Linked DNA regions of Homo sapiens: all the other regions are linked to region 1. Evidence: fine-mapped expression QTL. A gene starts in region 1. Each other region holds a variant in brackets. All regions are shown on one strand. Distances are from middle to middle.

Region 1 (5,526 bases):
AGACACTATTAGAGGGGCAGGAGAGAGGGGGTAAACACAGCATACTTCAAGGAGCTTACATTATAGTGGGAGGAGCCAATAAACACACAAGATAAATAAGGTACTTTCAGATTGAGATAAATGCTATGGAAAAAACTGAGTAATACGCAAGAGAGGGACTAGATTAGAGTGGGTCAATTTAGGGAGGGTGGCCAAGGAAGGTTTCTCTGAGGAGGATCATTTGAGCTGAGGCCTGAATGATGAGACGACATCAGCCATGCAGATAACAATTTAGGAATTCCCAAGGAGGACAGAGGGCTCAACCGTTTGGGGAATTTAGGGTAGACTCCTGCCTTCAAAGTTGGGTTTCAGGCTGGGCATGGTGGTTCATGCCTGTAATCCCAGCACTTTGGGAGGCCGAGGCGGGCAGATCGCCTAAGGTCAGGAGTTCAAGGCCAGCCTGGCCAATATGGTGACACTCTGTCTCTACCAAAAATACAAAAACTAGCTGGGTGTGGTGGTGTGAACCTGTAATCCTAGCTACTTGGGGGGCTGAGGCAGGATAATCGCTTGAACCGGGGAGGCGGAGGTTTCAGTGAGCCGAGATCATGACACTGCATTCCAGCCTGGACAATAGAGTGAGACTCTGTCTTAAAAAAAAAAAAAAAAAAAAAAGTCGGGTTTCAAAATAGCTACGTCAGTAGCACCTGGGAGCTTTTTAGAAATGCGGAATCCCAGATGCCACCCCAGACTTACTGAATCAGAATCCACATTTAACAAACACTCCCAGGTGATTTGTAAGCACAGTAAATTCAAGAAGTGCTAGACTCTTAACTTTTCCTGCAGCCCACTGGAAAGGTGTAAATCCTGCTGAGGCGGGGAGCAGGGAACGGTGTTGTCAGTGTCCGTAGAAAGATGACATGGTAACATTTACTGCTGCCTCTGAAACAAACAAGCTAGGTTCTAAGGGGGAAGTTCACTGGGTTATCAAATGTTAGGGTCCAAGTGATTTTCTTGGTTAGCACTCTTGCTTCACAGAAGACTCAGGTTCTTTGAGAAGTGACCGGCTCATGATAGGCTGCTTCTCTCTCTGTGCCAGCCTTTTTTTTTTTTTTTTTGAGATAGGGTCTGGCTCTGTCACCCAGGCTGGGGTACAGTGGCATGATTTGGCTCACTGCAACCTCTGCCTCCTGGGCTCAAGCAATCCTTCCACCTGAGCCTCCCAAGTAGCTAAGATTTGGGCTACCATGCTTGGCTAATTTTTGTATTTGTTAGTACAGATGGCGTTTCAATTGATGCCCAGGCTGGTCTCGAACTCCTGGGCTCGAGCAATCTGCCCTCCTCAGCCTCCCAAAGTGCTGGGATTACAGGTGTGAGCCACCGCGCCAGGCCTTGTGCCAGTTTTTAAAAATCAACAAGGACAGATTAGAGAACAGTGGAAGAGGGTGAGCAGCATGATGAAGTGATACAGAAATAATTTCACATGAAGAACTGGGCATGTTTGGCCTTTCTTTTCTTTTCTTTTTTTTTTTTTAAAGCCATTCGGTGAGGGTTACTTAAGAAAATAGGGCCGGGTGCGGTGGCTCATGCCTGTAATCCCGGCAATTTGGGAGGCCGAGGTGGGTGGAGCACCTGAGGTCAGGAGTTTGAGACCAGCCTGGCCAACATGGTGAAACACTGTCTCTACTAAAAATAAAAAAATTAGCCGGGTGTGGTGGTGGGTACCTGTAATCCCAGCTACTTGGGAGGCTGAGGCAGGAGAATCGCTTGAACCCTGGAGGTGGAGGTTACAGTGAGCTGAGATTGCACCATTGCACTCCAGCCTGGGCAACAAGAGTGAAACTCTGCCTCAAAAAAAAAAAAAAAAAAAAAAAGAAAAAAGAAAAAAAGAGAAAATATATGTGAGCACCAGAGCTCAACATTAGGAGCATTTCTGAGATTTGGAGCTATTCAACAATGGAAGTTCCTGGCACACACATCAGGTATTCACAATACCCTTTCTCAGGTGTTTGGTCACTGCTAGTGAGCCGCCTGGATCAGTGTTTCCCAAATGGCAGTCATTTGCATCTTTGCTTTTCTTTTGGGGGCGGGGGGGTAATATCCTGTACCAGATTTTTGAAAACTGACATTAAAAATACATGTTTAAAATGTGCAAAGTGCACTAAAGTGCACTGGATGTATTTTTTATTCATGTATATACTTTTGTTATCTATCACCCAGGTCAAAATACAGAACCAGCACCCCAGAGGGTTCCCTCCTCCTCCTTCCCAGCCAATAATCTTCTCCTCCTACCTAACCGCTGTTCTTACTTCAATCACTATCAACTAGTTTTACACGTTCTTCAACTGCATATAAATTGTCTCAGTTTTTTACTTAACACTTTTCTTGAAGTGCTTTCGTTTTTTGCCACTTTTTATTTGACCTAAGAAATAACATTAATGAAACAGTGGTTTGACGTGATAGGCATTTCCCTCCTAATGCGCACTAAAAACACTTAACTATTTGAAAAAAGAAGTTTCTTCGTGTACCAACTAATATATTCTCCGCCCTGTCTCCAGAAACCGCCCTTCCTCTGTGGGCCGGTGGTTACCGGCACCATTGGTACACGGACCACATTTTGTTTCCCAAAGCAACCAGATGATTTTTGAGGTCCTTTGCAGCTCGAACACGGAATGACTTTGTGGTGATCGAGTAGCCAGAAGTTCACGGAATGCACTGTCACAATTGTGATTCCGCCATAGCGCCGTGCATCCATCCAACACTTGTTTAATACCTATATTTAATACCTAATACCTTAGACGGTCCTAGGCTGTGGACACAGAAGACTAAACCCCACTTCCTGAGTTGAAGTGGGGGAAATAGAGGAGTAAATCATTTCACGATGTGTGGTTAAGTGCTGCAGCTCAGGTAACCACCAGTACACAGAGGAAGGGCGGTTTCTGGAGACAGGGCGGAGAGGAGACCGTGGGTGGGCATTTCCCAGAGCAGCCTCTGCCAGCCACCCTACTTTGATCACTTTGCCGCCGAGCAGCAGCGGCGGTCAACCTCAGCCTCCCTTAGCAACCTGAGTGCCCCGTCCAGGAGCCTTACTATTGGTCTCATGCAGCGAGATGGGCAGTTCTGCCGTGCAATCCCAGCTCGCAGTTCTTGCTCCGCGTGTACTCACGGGAGGACTCGCAGGCGTTACCGCCTTCCCGCGTGCCCCGCCCACCCTCCCGAGCGTCTTTCGGCGCATGCGCGGACTGGAGCTGTGTGCAGGGCCAGCGCGGAGCCCGAGCAGCCGCGGTGAAGCGCCTGTGCTCTGCCGAGACTGCCGTGCCCATTGCTCGCCTCGGTCGCCGCCGCTTTAGCCGCCTCCGGGGGAGCGGCCGCCTATTGTCTTTCTCCGCGGCGAAGGTGAAGAGTTGTCCCAGCTCGGCCCGCGGGGGAGCCCCGGGAGCCGCACGGTGAGAGCGCAACTTAGTTGGCGGAGTTGGGGGAAGTTTTGTGATTTGTGGGTCGGGGCGCGGAGCGCGGCCAGTCCCCTGCGGTTGCTCGGTGGGGCGGGCCCCGGAGGAGGGGCGGGGGCTGCGGGGGTTTCGGGGGCGGGCTGGACAGACGGGTCGCCGGGCGGCGCCGGGACCTCAGGTCTGCGGACCCCTCCTCCCTGCGCATCGCCCTTCTCCCGCATTGTCTGCTTGGGGCTCGGCGCGCCTCCCACTCCGCAGCCCAACTTAGAGGCCGTCGCCGCTTTCCGGGTGGGGGGCGCGCCCGGCCGCCGATGCTACCTCAGGCGCTCCGCCCCCAGCGAGGCCCCGAATCCTTGCCCCGGGTCCCCGGGTCGGCGCCGCCGGGGCGGGCTCACTCCTCCCCTGGGGCGGGCGGCCGCGGTGTGGAGTCCCCGCCGTGGAGTCCGCGCCGTGAACAAGTGCTGCGGGCGCGAGGGAGCGGCTCCCCGGGGTCGACGCGGACGGTAAACACGTCGGGCCGCGCCTGCCTGTCGGTGCCTCTCCGCGGCTTCTCGGGGGTGCGGCCCAGCTGACCCGCGCGGGTCGCAGGCGAGCGGCCCAGGAGACCCGTGCGGTCCCCACGCGCTCTGGGACCCGTGCAGCCAGCCGGCTCAGCTTGCAGCTATACTTTGATACCAAACAAAACTTTTTTTTTTTTTTTTGGTAAATACGGTTTACTGCTTTTTTTTTTTTTTTTTTTTTGCAAAGCCACGAAGTATGTGAAGTTGAAAAAAGGAAAAACCCTAAAACTTTTTAAAAAAAAATCAAGAAAGGGGGTAGATAGGTTTGTTTTGTTTTGGAAATAGTTCTTATAGCAGAGTGATACCGTCCCATTTAATTTTCTAGATCCCGGAATTCACAATGAAAATTGGATTGAGCGGTATTTTGGTGTTCATTCTTTGCTAATGACACTCCTTAATGAAGTTATTTGGAGAGTTTATTGCTTCAGTACAGTAAAAACCAGTGTGCCTTTTTTTTTGTTAGTAGTCCCCCCCACAACAAGTGTTTTATTTTTAGAAGAAGCATTTTCTTCAGTTTTTCTGAACTGTTGGATTGCGCAGATGAGGACAAACGGTGCAGTTCTTGAAAGGTCATTATTGGCAAGTTTGTGAAGAAGCTAAGATCAGTTGAGATAAATCATTGTTACTATTCTTGTATTCTGTCGTGGACTCTTGGGGATTTGCAGGCTGCATTAAGTACAAGTTTTGTCAAGTTTGGGTGCACATATTACACTTAATTTGGTTTGTGTGGCTTATTATATGAACATGATTCTGTTTCAGTTCCCCAGATGGAACTAGCTTAAATGTCTGTCATTCATAGTGGAGCAAAATGGCCAGAGTGTCATTTATTGTTAACTTCAGTTGTATTCCTTTACCATCTGCTAAATGAAAAAGAAAAATTTGAGAAATACTGTGTGTGTCAGTTTGCTCAGAGTGATTTCTCGTGCTAAGTGAGTCCTGTGGAGAAGCGTTCCTGGGCTTTTCTGGTTTGGTGGGCCTTGTGTTATAAAACCAATTTTCTTCACCTGATGAAGCTAAAGACAAATTTTCTTCAGGTACAGCCATTGCACTTTTAAATTACAGAGCCGCTTTTAGGATTCACAGTACTCGCTCCATGGCTTCCCTTCCTGGTTGTGTGGTTTTGTGTGTGTGATTGTGGGGAAGGAGGTTGACAGAGGTTGGAAGGGATTGTCAGGGAGGGACATAATGTAAGCAAGTACTACTTACAACATGACGTGACGAGTGCACTAGTTGCTTTCCTTCTCTGGGCGGTGATGGCATGTTATACTGTAGGTACTATTGTTTTAGGATTTCTCACACTTCTTTTGCCTTGACTAAATGGTAACTGCACACATACTATACTATAAATGGACTCCTCCTCTAGTCCTTTAACTCCTTGAGGGCTGTGATAGACCTTATTTAGCTTTTTACCCTCTTTGCCGGTAGTCTTAACATAGTGCAGGCACGGTACGTGTTTGAATTGGGTAAATTATTTTTACTGCCTAGTGGTAGCTAGCGTACACAGGAGAGAGCCACTAACTGGGGACCTGTCCAGAATG
Region 2 (5,526 bases), 73 kb after region 1:
TTAATTAGTTTAGCGATCTTTTGAATGATTTTTCATGTCTTGATTTCCTTCAGTTCAGCTCTGATTTTTGTTATTTCTCTTCTTCTGCTAGCTTTGGGGTTGATTTGTTCTTCTCTAATTCTTTCAGTTGTGAGATTAGGTTGTTAATTTGAGATCTTTCTTTTTCGTGTGGGCATTTGGTGCTATGAATTTTCCTCTTAACACCACCTTAGCTGTGTCCCAGAGATTCTGTTATGTTGTATCTTTGTTCTCATTATTTTCAAATAACTTCTGGATTTCTGCCTTAATTTCATTATTTACCTAAAAGTCATTCAGGAGCATGTTCTTATTTTCCATGTAATTGGATGGTTTTGAGTGATTTTCATTGTGTTGACTCCTATTTTCATTGCGCTGTGGTCTGAGTGTGTGTTTGGTATGATTTGGTTTCTTTTACTTTTGTGAGGATTGTTTTATGTCCAATTATATGGTTGATTTTAGAGTATGTGCCATGTCGTGATGAGAAGAATGTATATTCTGTTGCTTTTGGTTGGAGACTTCTGTAAAAGGTCTGTCAGATCCATTTGGTTCAACGCTAAGTTTAGGTCCTGAATATCTTTGTTTATTTTCTGGCTCAGTCTGTCTAATACTGTCAGTGGAGTGTTGAAGTCTCCCACTATTATTGTGTGGGGAGTCCATGTCTCTTTGTAGGTCTCTAAGAACTTGCTTTATGACTCTGGGTGCTCCTCTGTTGGGTGCATATATATTTAAGATAGTTAGGTCTTCTTGTTGAATTGAACCCTTTACCATTATCCCATGCCCTTCCTTGTCTTTTTTGATCCTTGTTGGTTTGGAGTCTGTTTTGTTTGAAATTAGGATTGCAACCTTTTTTGTGTTTCCCATTGCTTGGTAGATTGTGTTTCCCATTTGCTTGGTAGATTTTTCTCCATCCCTTTATTTTGAGCCTAGGAGTTTCACTATGAGTGAGATGGGTCTCTTGAAGACAGCATACCATTGGGTCTTGCTTTTTTATCCTTGCCACTTTGTGCCTTTTAAGTGGGGGCATTTAGCCTGTTTACATTCAAGATTAGTAATGGTGTGTCTGGATTTGATCCTGTCATTGTGCTGTTAGCTGGTTATTATGTTGGCTTGTTTGTGTGGTTGATTTACAGTGATACTGGTGTCTGTGTTTAAGTGTGTTTTTGTATTAACTGGTAGCGGTCTTTCTTTTGTATATTTAGTGCTCCTTTCAAGATATCTTTTAAGGGCAGGTCTGGTGGTAATGAAGTCTCTCGACATTTGCTTTCCTGAAAAGGATCTTATTTCTCTTTTGCTTCGGAAGTTTAGTTTGGCTGGATATGAAATTCTTGAAGATTTTTTTAAAGAATGTTGAATATAGGCCCCCAGTCTCTTCTGGCTTGTAGGGTTTCTGCTGAGAGATCCACTGTTAGCCTGATGGGGATCCCTTTGCAGGTGACCTGCTCTTTTTCCCTAACTGCCTTTAACATTTATTCTTTAATTTTCATCTTGGAAAATCTGACAATTATGTGTCTTGAGGATAATCTTCATGTGTAGAATATTGCAGGAGTTCTTTGTATTTTCTGGATTTGACTGTTGGCCTCTCTAGCAAAGTTGGGAAAGTTTTTGTGGATGATACCCTGAAACATATTTTCTAAGTTGTTGGCGTTCTCCCCTTGCCTTTGAGGGATGCCAGTGATTTGTAGTTTTGTCCTCTTTACATAATTTCTCGGAGGTTTTGTTCATTCCTTTTTATTCTTTTGTCTTTATTTCCGTCTGTCTTATTTCAGAAAACAAGTCTTCAAGTTCTGAAATTCTTTCCTTAGCTTTGGTTTATTCTGCTGTTAATTCTTGTGATTGTATTGTGAAATTCTTGTAGTGTGATATTCAGCTCTGTCAGATCCCTTAGGGTTTTTTTTTTTTTTTAAATACTGGTTATTTCATCCTTCAGCTCCTGTATCACTTTATTATGATTCTTATTTTCCTTGGGTTGGGTTTTGTCATCATCCCGAATCTCAATGATCTTTGTTCCTATCCATATTCAGAATTATATTTCTGTCATTGCAGCCCATTTGGCCTGGTTAAGAACTGTTGTTGGAGAACTGGTACAGTCATTTGAAGGACATATGACACTCTGGCCATTTGAGTTACTAGAGTTCTTGTGTTGGTTATTTCTCGTCAGTGTGTGTGGGTATTACTTTAACTGCAGTGTAGATTGAGTATGGTCAATAGACTTCTTTACTGCATGTTTTCACTGAGTTGAGGTTTTGTGTAGGGTGTTTATTTGAAGCTGACTTCTTGTTTCTGGTTTCAGAGGGGAGGGTATGTCAGGTATCTTTGGTGTTAAAGCTTTGGGGTATGATCCAGCAGGTGGCTCTTAGGCTTATTGGACAGCTGGTGGACTAAACAGTTGTTCAGTTGTGTGGCTCCCCTATGTTTCCTCACAGTTGTAGCCATGTTCCCTCTCAGTGTCCTGAAAGTATGGGTTTCTCTGCCCCTTGAGTGCTGGCTGTAGTTCATGACATCCAGTACAGCTCTGGGGAGATCTCAGTATTTATGTTCCTCCCCCAGCTTACAGGCTGCAGAGGGAGAGATCTTATTAGTGGTTTTGGCCAAGGGTTGTTTGCTTGATTCCTGGGGGCTCCACCTCAGAGAGATGCAGGTGAGCAGTTGCTTAGTGCAGTCAGCCCAGGATGGAGGGTCAGTGCTGCGGGCCCAAGCCAGGGGTTGGTTCCCTGTCTGGTGATGAGCCGTCAGAGGTGTGTGGGACCTGTGGGAGATGGACTGGCCTCCTCTCCTTGAGTTTACTGCAGCTTGTTGGAGTGTGGATAAAGC[A/G]CTTAATGTCTTTGCTCCTTCATCAGACCGAGGGTGGCAAGGGCAGTTCCACAGTAGAGTCAGTGGCCGAGAGGCTTTTAGTTGCCACTAGAGGCTCTGTCCAGGGAGTTGCTGAGTTGGTGCTAGCTGAGTAGCTCTGGTTGGGGGTGGCTGGAGCCCCAGGCTTGGAGGACCTGCCCTGTGAGGAGATATGGGATCAGCCACCCACGTAACAGTGGGGCCACTTTTCCCTAGGGCTGCTGTGGTATACTTGAGGCCTGCAGCAGTCCCTGGTCACCTCAGATTTTCCAGAATCTGGAGGTGTTACCAGTGAAGACTGTGAAACAGCAAAGATGGCTGCCTGTCCTTCCCTCTGGGAACTTTGTCCCAGGGAGGAATGACCTGTTGCTGGTCCAAAGGCACCTATAGGAAGTGGCTGGAGACTCCAGTTGGGAGGTCCCCCAGTGAGGAGGAGCAGGATCAGGACTGCTTAAAAAAGCAGTCTGGCCACATTTTGGTAGAGCATGTGTGCTGTGCTGGGGGTCCACTTCAGCCCTCGGTTGCCTCAGACACTCTGAAGCTCTAAGGCTGGAACAGCTGAGTCACCCAAACAGCAAAGATGGTAGCCACCCCTTCCTCCGGAAGCTTTGTTCCAGGGGAACTTCAGATCTCTGTTGGCTGGAGAGCTTGGGTGGGGGTGGCTGGAGGCCCAGGTTGGGAGGTCCTACCCAGTGAAGAGGAATGGGATTGGGCACCTGCTTAAAGCAACAGCCTGGCCACGTTTGGGTAGAGCAGCTGTGCTGTGCTGTGCTGGGGCATCCCTTCTGTTCTGGGTCAGCACAGATTCTCCAAAGCACAAAGGCTGGAATGGCAAAGATGGTGGCCCACCTCTTCCCCTAGGAGCTCCTTCTTAGGGAGGTGCAGTGCCACTACTGGCAGCTGGCTAGAATTCCAAGCCAGTGGGTCTTATCTTGTGGGCTGCCATGGAAGTGGGTCCTGTGGGCTCTTGCTGGTCAGTCCCCTGGATTCAGCCTCTTTCCTAGGGGTATTTACAGGAGTCTAACCTCCCACCCTGCTGGAGGTACAGCTACTTTTGCCAGAAAGCCCAAGTATCTAAGGCTCCAGGGTCTTCACGCATGCCAAGACTCCACATGGCTCTGTTGGTCAGACTGAAGACTGCAGGCCCTGGTGGAGTGGGTTCACAAGGCGATCTCTTAACCTGAAGTTTGCAAAGGTCTGTGGGAGAAGCATAGTTTCTGGGGATCGCTCATTCACTCACTGCTTCCCTGAGTCGGGGAGGAACCCCTGGCTCCGTGTTGCTCCCAGGTGCGCTGTTTTCCTGCCTTGCTTTTCTCTGTTCTCTGTGGGTCAAGTTGTTTCCTTGATTAATCCCAATGAGAGTACCTGGATGTTTCAGTTGAAGGTGTTGTATTTACTCACCCTTTCTGTTCCTCTCTGTGAGAGTCACACACACTAGCTGCCTCTAGTCGGCTCTGTTGGCCACTCCCTAGCCGTTTAAACTGTTTAAAAAAAAATCTTATCGTGATGTAATTCACATGCTATATAACTTACCCATTTAAAGTGTACAGTTATTTTAGTATATCCAGAGAGTTGTTCAACTGTCACTGTGATCAATTTTGAATCTTTTCATCACCCCAGAACGAGACTTTGCACACCTTAGTTGTTATCTTGACCCAAATTTCGTAACTGTTTTGAGTTACTCACTGAAGATCATTTGGTCTCTTAACAGGCAGCAAGAAATTGATCCAGATTATCTCCTTTCTCGATCTGTCGTCTTACTGACAGATTTTTAGGCACCAAAAATCACAATTCCTTTCTGTGTATGCTACTTTAAGATAGATTTCTTGTCTTCTGTGAGTTCATTTGGGAGTTTCAGTGAAGGACCTGGGTGTTTTGATGGAAGTACATGGTTTATGTGTATCCATATTAAATTTCATCTTGGTGTATTGGGCCTCTCATGTCTGTCCTTGGTACATCCTTTTAGCCTTTTAGGACTTCTGGATCTTCAGTCTGCCTTTTAATGTATTAATGTTCTTAGTGAACCTAATATGGTCTGTATATTTGATCATTTGATCATTAGATTTTTTTTTTAAGTCATTGGCAAATGTGTTAATTAGAATTAGGCAGAGTGGGAGTGGGGAAGAGTTGGCGTTGCCTGTACAAAATCTCGTTTCTTGTAGATATTTATGAATTACTCATTTTGCTTTGTTTACAGAACCATTATAGGGTTGAGGATGGCAACAGTGGGACACGAGGCATATTCTCCCCCTCCCACAGTGCTTCTCTAAATTCCTAGATTTCACCTAGAAGCACAGACAAAAGCATGAGCGGCGGGAGGGGAATTTTAGTCACACTCTTTATACTTATAGCCACCATGACGTCTCAACTCACATTTCTTCAGTTTGTTCACAGCAATAACATAGGGGATTTGGGCATAGGTTTTACTCAAATTCAGACACAGTGTTTTTAGTTTTCCTTAGTCTCTGTTACCAATCCCTTGGATGATAAAATTTATTTTAAAAAAAGAACTGTGGTGTGTCTTCTTGAAGGTATATGCTGAGCTTTTAGATTATTGCTTCCCTTTCAAAGGCGCACAGTCCATCCCTTTAACAATTTGTGTCTGACACCGAGATAAAACTCAATAGATTACAGATTGTTGAATCTAGCTTCTTACTGCAAACTACTGTAATCCCTTTG
Region 3 (5,526 bases), 370 kb after region 1:
TCAGTTTATTTGAAAGAGGTCTGGTTTAAAATTTGTAGCCTACATTTGTTTTATTTATTGTATTTGTGTGTTTGTGTTTGTTTTTTTTTAAGGGTGAGCCAGGTCTAGCCCAACAGTCTAAACTATCCAGTCAATACCGAGTGAAGTGGCAGCCAGCACTGTTCACTCTGTGTCTTTTGAAGTGCCTTGAAGGCCCAGATGAAATTTTAAAGGGAGGGGGTCCATGTCCTTCCCTCCCCCACCCCGCCTCATTCTTTAATCAAAGGATGTCTTCTCCCTTGTTTGAGAATGAAGAAACTCGCCACCTCTGACCTACCTTTGCCTTTTTCTGTCATGGAGAATACTCACCCTTCAGAAACAGACCAAAGGCCAAAACCTGCTGATTTTTCTATTGAAAATATGTCCCCTTGCAAAGACCCTAAACAAAAAGTTAAGTTTCTTTCTTTCACCTATTTGTACAACTCCAAGTTACAGCTGAATCTGTCGTGACTTTCCTGAGATCTACCCGGGGCTTGGCTGTCTGTTCTGGGCACTGGCTCCGAGTTCCCCTCCTGGGATTTGCAGGAGGGCAGTACTGAACCTGCATTCTTCTCCTTGTAAATGTAGGCCGGGTGCCCCTGTTCTCCGGGTTTGGAACAATACGAGGTTGGTGCTGATGGGATTTACTTGCGTACGTGCTCTTCACAAAAACACCGTGGATGCTGAAGTTAGAGCACGTCGCCACAGAGCTTGACATCAATGTTAGAGGGTCTCTTACTCCCCGCCCAGCTGTGATGTTTCATCTGCTTTGGTTGTTTTGGTGGTCTTTTTTAAAAATAGAGATTTCACATCTGCCCAGACCCCACTCAAAACGATTTGGTCAGGTTCTGGTTGGACAAGTTTAAAATCAAAGTAGTGCCCGGAATTCCCTCAAACCACCCAACTTCATCCAGGAATACAGTCTGCAGTGCAGCAACAGAACCGCTTACCAAGAACTGTGCTTACATACCTTTGTCATCTCTCTTCCCCCCTTGGAAGTTGTCCTCAGGGGGATTTGTTCCTGTCCTGGGGATTTACCTGGGATGGTGGCTGCCTGTGCTTTTGCTCATGGCCTTGACAGTGCTCTAGTTGCTGGATCTAATGGCCTGTCTTGGTTTCTATCACATGAGAAGGGGTTGTTTTTTTGGGGTGACTCGGACTGAATTCCCCATACTGTTTCCACGCCGGGACACCATGTTCTCCATCAAGCTAAAGAAATCACGTGCCTGAAACTGTGCTTAAGTTTTGGGGGAAAGATGGAGTTCCTATCCAGAGCCCCCAGATTTCCAGAATCGAGTGAGCTTCCTGGAAGGAGACTGCGTCTTCTCTCAATTCCAGTCATCTCAGTCGTTGTCGTTAGGTGACATGTGCACTTTAAATGCTCTCATCGGTTGGCTTCATTTTCAAGACAATCAAATGTATTGACTGTGTTTTCTTCTTAGAAAATGGAGAGGGTTAAAAACATGCAAACTGCCACTTTCAACCTTTGCCAGTATTCCCTCTACCCCCGTGAGAGCTATCTGGGGGGAAGAATCCTTACCAAGGTTTTTTTGGAAAGGTACGAATCTTAACTTTTTTCCCCTTCTGTGTCTCAGGGTAATACTATTCAGAGTCGCCCCTTTGCTCATTTTCTCCCGTATTTGTTACCTTCCTGAGGCCTCAGTATTAGTCGTGAGCACAAAGTTTTGAGACCTTTGGCGTTGTTTCTTGATGTGGGAGGGGAGGTGTTAGTGCATGCAAGGGTTGAACTAGATAGACCCTGCCTTAGTAGAGGGTGGGACTATAACCTTAGAGGCCAGAACTTGATCCAGAAGTTGCTGTCCACAGAAGTGCTTTCTATTTCATCATTTTTGTTTCTAGGGCTCTTTTTCTGTAGCCAGGTCTTCCCAAGGATTTTAGTATTTGCATTGGAGTTGAGGTTTACTCTAATGATGGTGGCCCAGCTGTGCCCAGAGGACAGCCAGGCAGGCCCTGGGAGGGAGTTTAGAAAGACAGTCCTGGTGAATGGGCTTCAAGTGGTCACAAAGAGGGTGGCTGTGAGGTGACCCCAGACACTGCAGAACGATGTGCACCCTCTGCGTTTTGGATGTCCTTGGAATGTGGGAGCCTAGAAATAACCCTGTGGATGGAATTGGGGCAGCGGCTGCTGGAGATCTGTG[T/C]GCCTTGCCTTCCTTCAGCAGGACCGTCTAGGTGCGCAGCCACCTATGGATGCGTCCCAGCCAGCCCCGTCGCTCTCGTCCATCCTCAGAGACAAAGAAGAGGGCAGGGAGTTTGGGCTTGGTTTTGAACTTTCCTTTCAATGTAGCAAAGCATTCCTAGTTAACCAGAGCCTTGGAATCTACTGCCTGCTGGCCAGGCTTTAAAATGAAAAGTGTTTTAATGCTGCCATAAAAGGGAGGCGGGGGGGAGGAAGGGAAAATAAAGGCATCTTTCCAAGTACTCATCTAATTTAATTGTCAAAAGATTGATAGGCCATGAATTACTTCTCCATCTCACTAAGGGTTAAAGGCGTGCAACCCCCCACTGGCTGTGTCCCCTGCCACCGAAGTGAGTGACCTGCCCTACAACCAGGTGGGACCACCTGTGCTGCAGTCCGGAGGGGCTTCTGCAGGAAGCACTCACCCCCCACACCTTCCCCGGCCTGAGCTTCCCCTACCTTTCGTCACCACCTGAGGGCATGAGCACAGGCCATGGGGCGTGCCTGGTGAGTCTGCCTGTGGTTCAGGCTTAGCCTGTGGTCTCCTGTGTGCTGCTGCCCGCATGGGATGCGCAGGGGAGGCGTGGGGATCCGCAGGAGGGTGGTTGGGATACACCGGATACCTCTGCTCTCATTGCTTGTTTGCAAATGCTCTATGGACATTTGTGTGCTAAATCCTATTAAATAAAAAAGACGGGTTAAAACCCAGATGCTGTATATTCATTTGTAATTATGTATAAAGTGAAGCAGTTTTAAACTGTAAAGATTTTTTTCAGTGTGTTTTCTCGAATTTTGCCACAACATACTGGCTTCGTATTTTATTTATCTTTCTTTCTAGTTACCAGCTTCAGACCCTTGTAAAGTCTCCCTCAGCCCTTTCAAAAAATAATAAATTTCCTGTGAAGTTCTGGTTGGTGCTGTGACTTATTCCTATTCCTGATTCCTGTAGAAGGGATACTCCCCATCCACCCCCATAGCTCTTGAGGAGACGCCTTATGCACCGAGCAGCTGCTGGGGACGCATTTCACTCTCTCGGAGTGGGACCCAAACCCAGAGAGTGACTGATCAGCCCTAAAGTCAAACAAACAGTTTATGCCAAGAGCCAAAACTTCCTATTTCCAGATAAATCAATACAGTGAACAGGAACTTTGCTATAGAGCCTGCGACTTCCCTTAATGTTAGTTTCTCTCTCTTCGCTAACATTCTCCACCCCGTCCCACCCCCAAACTAGAGCAACTGCCAGAAACTAATTCAAGAAGAAAGATCCTCTCTGCTTGTAGCTCCCGGCTGATTCACTGGGTCTGATCCCGGAATGTCGGGGCTCCCCTGGAGACACACAGGGCTCCAGCTGTCACTGGCTCCACCAGCACAGCCTGTGCCTTCCATTTTTAGATTAGATTACTAGCTTCCTACTCTTCCAGGTCTGCGCTTTCTGGACCTATAGGAAGACCCTTAAGTCCAGCTGGGCCTTGGAGAACTGTGCCGCTCGCAGTAATGCAGAGAACCTGGGCAAAGCTGCCTGGAGTCCCCGCTCTGCCACTTCCCAGCTCCCCGCCCCTCCCTGACAGTCACCAAAAAGAAAGTCCTGGCCAGGCGTGGTGGCTCACGCCTATAATCCCAGCACTTTGGGAGGCCGAGGTGGTCGGGTCACTTGAGCTCAGGGGTTCAAGACCAGCCTGGCCAACATGGTGAAGCCCCGCCTCTAGTAAAAATACAAAAATTAGCTGGGCGTGGTGAAACCCCATATCTATCTACTAAAAATACAAAAATTAGCCAGGCGTGGTGGCACATACCTGTAATCCCAGCTACTCGGGAGGTTGAGGGAGGAGAATTGCTTGAACCCGGGAGGCGGAGGTTGCAGTGAGCCGAGATCGTGCCGCTGCACTCCAGCCTGGCAACAGAGCGAGACTCTGTCTCAAAAAATAAAATCCTGCCCAGCTGCCAAGTGTCTTTCCTTTCACCACGAACTTGGAAGTGCACGGGTTTCTTTGCAGAGTCTTGTAGCCCTGGTGATAGCTGCCTCCCCATAAGCCAGTAAAACACTGGTCTTTTTTCTCTCGCTCACTGCTCTTGGCTGTCACTGCTGCCCTGGCGGTCTCCTCCCCCACAGCAGCCATCCTGGCCTGGGTCCGCGGTGGCCCTCATCCACCCAGACACCCTCAGCAGGGCAAGAGGAGTGGTTCCCATGGCCTCCCTCCTCCGCTCTCCACCGCAACTGGTTCTGAGCCAGGGACAGGCTCTGTCTGGGAGGCAAGAAGAGCGAGAAGATTCCATTCTCTTCCAGAACAGCAGAGACACAAAGCGCAGAGGGCCCCAAGAACACTAGCCAGCCATTCAGTAGGGGCTTAAGTCTCTGCCCACTCCTAACGGATGCTGCTGTGCCCAGAGCCTCTGCCACAGCACAGACTTGACCGCCAAGTGGCTCCTACGAAAGTGGCCATTTTCCGTTTGAAGGTCCCTCATCCCCAGGGAAAGCCCGTGGCCTAGGGGCGGCCACCTGTGAACTAGCAGGAGATGCTGTCTGCAGCCACAGCCCTGCCGGAAAAGAAGTGGGAGTCGCTGATGCTGCAAGACAGAGACCTAAACCGAAGTGTGGGGAGGACACTAGGAGGCCCCAAAAACCAAAAAGCCAGGGAGGAGCTTGGGAGGAGAGGAGGCATGCAGCGTGCAAGCCTTGCGATTTCCTTGGAAGCAGCCACAGAAGCAGAGGGCGGGCGAGCTGAGCTGCAGATTGTTAGACCTCAGACCTGGAACTCCCTGAACTCCCTGCCTGGGGGTGACAACCCCCTCATCCAGCCTCTGCACAGCAAGAAGTGCCTCCCCAAGCCCCCCACCTCCCCGTCCCTGCCACAGTTCCTGTTCTTTGGAGTCTTCGGAGACTCCTTTGTCCTTAAAATTTGACTCTGTTTCTTCAGGGGCACAGTGGCAGATCATCCAGAGGGTCCTGGAGCAGTCCAGTTCCAGCGCCGTCCTGCCACCCCTGTGGGTGTCCCCCCGGGCCAGAGAGGAGTGACAAGTGGGAGGAAGTGGCATGTGCCCTAAATGGGGAGGATGTGGGTCCCAGAGCCCCAGCAGCCTACCCCCTCCACCCCAGTTTGGGGCCCTCCCTTGCTGCCTGCCCGCCCCTGCCCCTTCCGCCATCCCCAGCTGCCTTTGGTATCCAAGTGACAGCCTGGGCCCTTCCCACCCCCGCTAAGGCCTCCTCCTTTCATATGGTAATGGCTTGCTCTACACAGCCCTAGTCCCACAGATGTGTGGGCTACCCCTCTCTCCCCATGCCTTTGGGAAACTTTCTTCTTCCTGGGAAACAG
Region 4 (5,526 bases), 41 kb after region 1:
TTTAGTCTAGAGATAAGGAATCAATCGCATAGTTATCATTAATAATAAAGACCACAAGTGGCTAAGACCACTTTAACCACAAAAAGGAGACAGTTGAAATATTGTACATGGGTTTAAGTATAGATAATTAAATTCAGCAGTCTGCTTATAGTACCTGCTGTGTGCTGGGCATTGTTTAGATGTTCAGATGTTAAAATAAGAAATGGATTCTGTGCTCAAGGATGCCACCCTTAAGGGTTTAATTAGAGCCATTATTTCCAGAACCATTAATTAGAACCATTATTTCCAGAAAAATTTGGTGGTGATGGGAAGAGTCTTTGTATATTTTTGAACATTCCACAGTGGACACTGTTTGCTTTAAGTATAATCTTTGTATCATATCATCATAGGATTTGTAAAATTTTCAAACTTCTTTGCAAGTACTTTGCAAACTTCTTTGTATGCATTAAAAGAATGCGTGGTTCTGAGAGATTTAATTATGGCAGCCTCAGGGCCACTTTATAAAATGCTCTCCTTTTGATACTCTGTGAGTTGCCATTATGTTGCCCCATTTCTATTCCTGGTAAAGACTCACCGATCATACTGATGAACTTGATCTGCATTTTGGACTGAGCTTAGTCATACAAGTAACGTGGCCGCTGATACATTGTGTATCATTCTGGAAAACAATTGTATGTCACTGTTGACCCGGATATTTTTATGTATAGGATTGCTTAGTTGCAAGATAGATGAAAATATAGTTGCCTAATCATTTAAGAGTGAAAGATTCTTGGTATTCTAGTTTTTGGGTTGAGGAGGGAGAATAAAAAATTTTCCAAGTTTAGTGAGTTTTTTTGTTGGGGGATGGAGAGGGAATGTAGAGAGATGGTTAACCAGTATTTATGTCTCATTTCAAAATAATGACAGCTTTTTTTAAAAAGCTTGAAAGATAGTATATGCCTTTTGTCAGTAATCAACATATGTATGTAATCTATTCTGTTGATAAATGTCAATATCTAAGGATAAGTAGGGCACAGAGAAGGGAAATTGTGTACCTCATTTTCTCTGTAAGGCTGTAAAGAGTGAAGAGGGTGAGAGAAAGAAGGCACACCTTTCATATTCATCTGTCATTTCTAGAAGGCTTAAGTGTCTGAATCTGACTCTTGTTTTTTTTTTTTTTTTTTTTTTTTGAGACGGAGTCTCGCTCTGTTGCCCAGGCTGGAGTGCAGTGGCGGGATCTCAGCTCACTGCAAGCTCCGCCTCCCGGGTTCACACCATTCTCCTGCCTCAGCCTCCCAAGTAGCTGGGACTACAGGCGCCCGCCACTACGCCCGGCTAATTTTTTGTATTTTTAGTAGAGACGGGGTTTCACCGCTTTAGCCGGGATGGTCTCGATCTCCTGACCTCGTGATCCGCCCGCCTCGGCCTCCCAAAGTGCTGGGATTACAGGCGTGAGCCACCGCGCCCGGCCTTTTTTTTTTTAATCTGACTCTTTTAACAGTATTCTGATAGAGCAGCGATGGCTTCAAGACGTAGACTGTTGTCACTTCTTTTGTCTGCTGAGCTGCAAAACAGCTTCTTGGGATATCTGGCCCATGACTTTGGATAGGATTGATGGCTTCCCTAGCCCAGTCTGTTCATTCATCTTTGGAGTTGATTTCTTATCTTTCCTGCTTGAAAAGAATGGATGCAGGGTATGGTATGATTCTGATTATGTTTTTATTCAATATGAAGCAATTAGTTGACCATACCATGAGACAGAAAAGACAAATACTCATTGAAAGTTGATACTTAAAACTCTTACCCTAATTGGGATTAGGAGGAAGAGTACTTTATTTCACCAGAGAATAATGCCAGAAAATTTTGCTAAGGGTAAAAGTGTGGGGACCATTTTCGAAGGAGGTCAAGAGCTAGCTATTTTATGTAAGGGAAATTATCTGAATGGGATGGAATTATAAGGAAAGGAAGCTGAAATATTGAAAGAGAATTTCCCCCAATATTTTCTTAAATGTGGGCTATTACTTTTTCATTGGAAAAAATTTAAAAGGACTACATTAAAAATGAGAATACTTAACAGGCTGAAGTAGGAGGATTGCTTAAGTCCAGGAGTTTGAGGCCAGACTGGGCAACATGGCAAGACCGTGTCTCTCTAAAAAAAAAATCGGAATTCTGCATTTTAAGGAGTGTGGTTCATTCCTAGTTATAGATTAGGACAGTTGAATTATGTGAAGGTCTGAGAACTATTTCCAATATATAGACTTTTATTAAACAAAGGTATAGATGGATGATGACTTAGAAATGCAGGCGGTGATTTTGTTTCATGCCTAGTTTCTCAAGTTTTAGAAAATGGTGACAGTCTCAGAGAAAACAAGCAACTATTTTGTGAAATCTCCAGGTGTCAAAACAGTCCAAGGCACATATAATTAGAATAAATTAAGGGAGAATGTTGCTTTAGAGTTCTTGTGGTGCACTAGTCATTCTTAAAGGGTGAGCAAGGCAAAAACTAAAAATAGATGGAAGCTTATCTGCACATTTGAACTTGTGGAACAGCTGGAGTGGGTCTCTTACTCCCTTACTCTTCCTAACTGAATAATTCTCCCTCTCTGGTTATTTGCTGTATTGAGAAAGTCTTCACTGGCTCTCCTGGCGTTTTTGAGAAGGATATTAAAGGGGCTTGAATTAGAGCACAGGAAGTGGAATAAATGGCAGGAAACATTTGATCATTTCTGTCACTGTCAGAATGAAAGCCCAATATTTGATTTGAGAGGTTGCAGGACAGTAGCAAATGTTTTGATGGGTTTGTGTGTGCGCGTGTGCGCGCG[C/T]GCCTGTGCACACTCTCAACTTTGTATCTTTTTTTTTCTTTGCCCTTCTCTCTAATATTCACTCTTGTCCAGATTTTCATAATATAATTGGAAGAAGCAAAGGCCCTTCCTCCTCTGTTAATGAGTTACAATCTTTCACAGGTCCAAGAAAGGCGACAGAAGGGACTTTCTACTTTGTAGACTTATTATTGTTTTTCATTTTCTACTAAAAGTTTATTTTCCCATGTGCTGTTTTTCGGTGTGTATGCATTGTTAACTGCATTTCCACCATGTTGCATAAGGAACATTTGCAATTTGGTTTATAATGTCACCATTCGTGCTCCATAAGGGAGGTCTATACTCTATCTCTCATATATCCAGTACCTAAAACTCACTGCCTGGCACTTAAGTAGGTGCTTCAGTATATGTCAGCATTCCAAAGGTCTTTGTTACTGTAAATAGAGCATTGATGTGAATAGTACAGATGATGGTGGGCTCTATCATGATCTCTCTTGGCAGGGATTTATCCAGAGTCATTTGAATAATTACCATGTACCAACTAGTATGTCTGGTCCTGGGTATGTACGTATTTAGGACCTTTAGAGAGCTTATATGTTGGTAGGAGAGGACATACTAGGAAACCAACAATTACAGTATGGGGGTGCTGTTACGAGATTTGAGGTGTGCATTAGAGAGCAGAGAGGAAGGCTACCTGACCCAGTTTAGAGTGAGTTGAGAGAATTAGGGGATTGTTTCATGAAGGAGATGATGGTTACATGATCATGTTCTGTAAGATGAGGAAGAGTTAGCAGGGAAAAGGGGAGGAAAGGCTTGGAGCCCTGAGAAAACTTTGTCCTTATGTTGGGGAAGTACTCTGTTCAGTTTTCAAGTTATGCACCATTTTGACTAATCTTTAAGGAAGTAATGTAATTGGTTAGTTTGGACTTTTCTCATAATTTGAACAGAGGTTTTTTGTTTTGTTTTAATAATGGAGCAGTTTAAGAAAGAACTTACCTTGTTTACCCTACCCTAACCAAACCAAACCAAATGAGGTGTTGCATCCTTCTCTGTGCATACCTGCATATGATTTTAAATTAGGAAAGAAAAACCAATCCAACTCTCTTGTGAATAGGAGTTGCTGTTAGTGTACAGTTTCTTATTTTGGCAGCAAACCCATCTCAGCAATGCAGATGTTCTGCAGTAAAATAGGTGACTTATTAATATGATATTTTCTGGTTGTGAAAAACAGTTGCATGGCCAGTATAGAAGTGACCTATTTGAATATAGTACAATATTAATCTGCAGGCATGCTTCAGAGATATTGTGGGTTTGGTTTCAGACTACTGGAATAAAGTGAACATTGCGATAAAGCAAGTCACACATGTTTTTTGTTTCCCGGTGCATATGTTTTGTTTATACTATGCTGTAGTCTAGTAAGTGTGTGATAGCATTGCATCTAAAACTGTACATCCCTTAATTGAAAAATATTGCTAAAAAATGCTAACAATCATGTGAACCTTCAACAAGTCGTGATCTTTTTGCTGGATGGTCTTGCCTTGATGTGGATGGCTGCTAACTGATCAGGTGGTGGTTGCTGAGGATTGGAGCAGCTTAGGCAATTTCTTAAAATAAGACAACAGTGAAGTTTGCTGCATTGATTGACTCTCCTTGACAAAAGATTTCTTTGTAACATGTGATGCTGTTGGATAGCATTTTGCCCACAGTAGAAACTCATTTCAAAATTGGAGTCACTCCTCTCCAACCCTGCTGCTAGTTGATCAACTAACTTTATGTAATACTGTAAATCCTTTGTTGTCATTTCAACAATGCACAGCATCTGCACCAAGAGTAGATTCCATGTCTAGAAGCCACTTTCTTTGCTCATTCCTTAAGAAGCAACCTGCCATCTGTTCAAGTTTTATCATGAGATTGCAGGAATTCAGTCATATCTTCAGGCTCCACTTCCAATTCTAATTCTCTTGCTGTTTCCACCACATGTCCAGTGACTTCTCCCATTGAAGTCTGGAACCCCTCCAAGTCATCCATCAGGGCTGGAATCAGCTTCTTCCAAAACTCCTGTTAATGTTGATATTTTGATGTTCTCCCCTGAATTGTGAATGTTCTTAATGGCATCTAGAATGGTGAATCCTTTGCAGAAGGTTTTCAGTTGGCTTTGCCCAGATTCATCAGAGGATGGATGGCAGGTCTAGGATTATGAAATTAGTTTCTTAAATCATAAGACTTGAAAGTCAAACTTACTTCTGGGTCAGTGGGCTGAAGAAAGCAAGTGTGTTAGCAGGCATGAAAACAACATTAACCTCCTTGTTCATCTCCATCATAGCTCTTGGGTGACCCAGGTGCATTGTGAGTGAGCAGGAGTCTTTTTTTTCTGGGCAGTAGGTCACAACAGTGACCTTAAAATATTAAACCATGCTATAAACAGATGTTCTGTCCAGGCTTTGTTCTAGTTACGGAAACACAGAGTAGACTTAGCATAATTCTTATGGGCTCTAGAATTTTTAGAATGGTAAGTGAGCATTGGCTTCAACTTAAAGTCATCAGCTGCATTAGCCCCTAACAAGAGAGTCAGCTTGTCCTTTGAGGTTTTGAAGCCAGGCTTTGACTTTCCCTCTCTAGCTATGGAAGTCCTAGATGGTGTCTTCTTCCAGTATAAGGCTGTTTTGTCTACATTGAAAATCTGTTGTTTAGTGTAGCTACTTTCATCATTTGTCTAGATTGTCTGGAT

Evidence for each region. PIP is the estimated chance that this variant, and not a neighbour inherited with it, causes the effect. A credible set is the group of variants that fine-mapping cannot tell apart.
Region 2: its variant is the best candidate, but not a certain one, in a credible set for the expression of AKAP13 in whole blood (INTERVAL, PIP 0.70).
Region 3: its variant is the best candidate, but not a certain one, in a credible set for the expression of AKAP13 in whole blood (TOPMed, PIP 0.55).
Region 4: its variant is the best candidate, but not a certain one, in a credible set for the expression of AKAP13 in whole blood (TOPMed, PIP 0.87).

What each region holds. Positions count from the first base shown.
Region 1 is chr15:85,377,374-85,382,899 of GRCh38, forward strand. AKAP13 (A-kinase anchoring protein 13) reads left to right here and starts at 3,230. Exons shown (of 37, transcript NM_007200.5): 1 at 3,230-3,425. It overlaps MIR7706 (microRNA 7706), which reads left to right and starts at 3,223; the gene lies at 3,223-3,289. RefSeq lists silencers at 3,081-3,160, 3,541-4,110, 3,767-3,934.
Region 2 is chr15:85,450,315-85,455,840 of GRCh38, forward strand. All of the region lies in intron 1 of AKAP13 (A-kinase anchoring protein 13), which reads left to right. Among named protein-coding and RNA genes, the nearest start is that of AKAP13, 72 kb to the left of the region's middle. RefSeq lists enhancers at 2,477-2,546, 2,707-2,826, 3,417-3,964, 3,965-4,511. The variant A/G (reference allele first, on the strand shown) is at 2,830.
Region 3 is chr15:85,746,234-85,751,759 of GRCh38, forward strand. It overlaps AKAP13 (A-kinase anchoring protein 13), which reads left to right. Exons shown (of 37, transcript NM_007200.5): 37 at 1-3,122. Among named protein-coding and RNA genes, the nearest start is that of LINC02883, 9.7 kb to the right of the region's middle. The variant T/C (reference allele first, on the strand shown) is at 2,178.
Region 4 is chr15:85,418,791-85,424,316 of GRCh38, forward strand. All of the region lies in intron 1 of AKAP13 (A-kinase anchoring protein 13), which reads left to right. Among named protein-coding and RNA genes, the nearest start is that of AKAP13, 41 kb to the left of the region's middle. The variant C/T (reference allele first, on the strand shown) is at 2,802.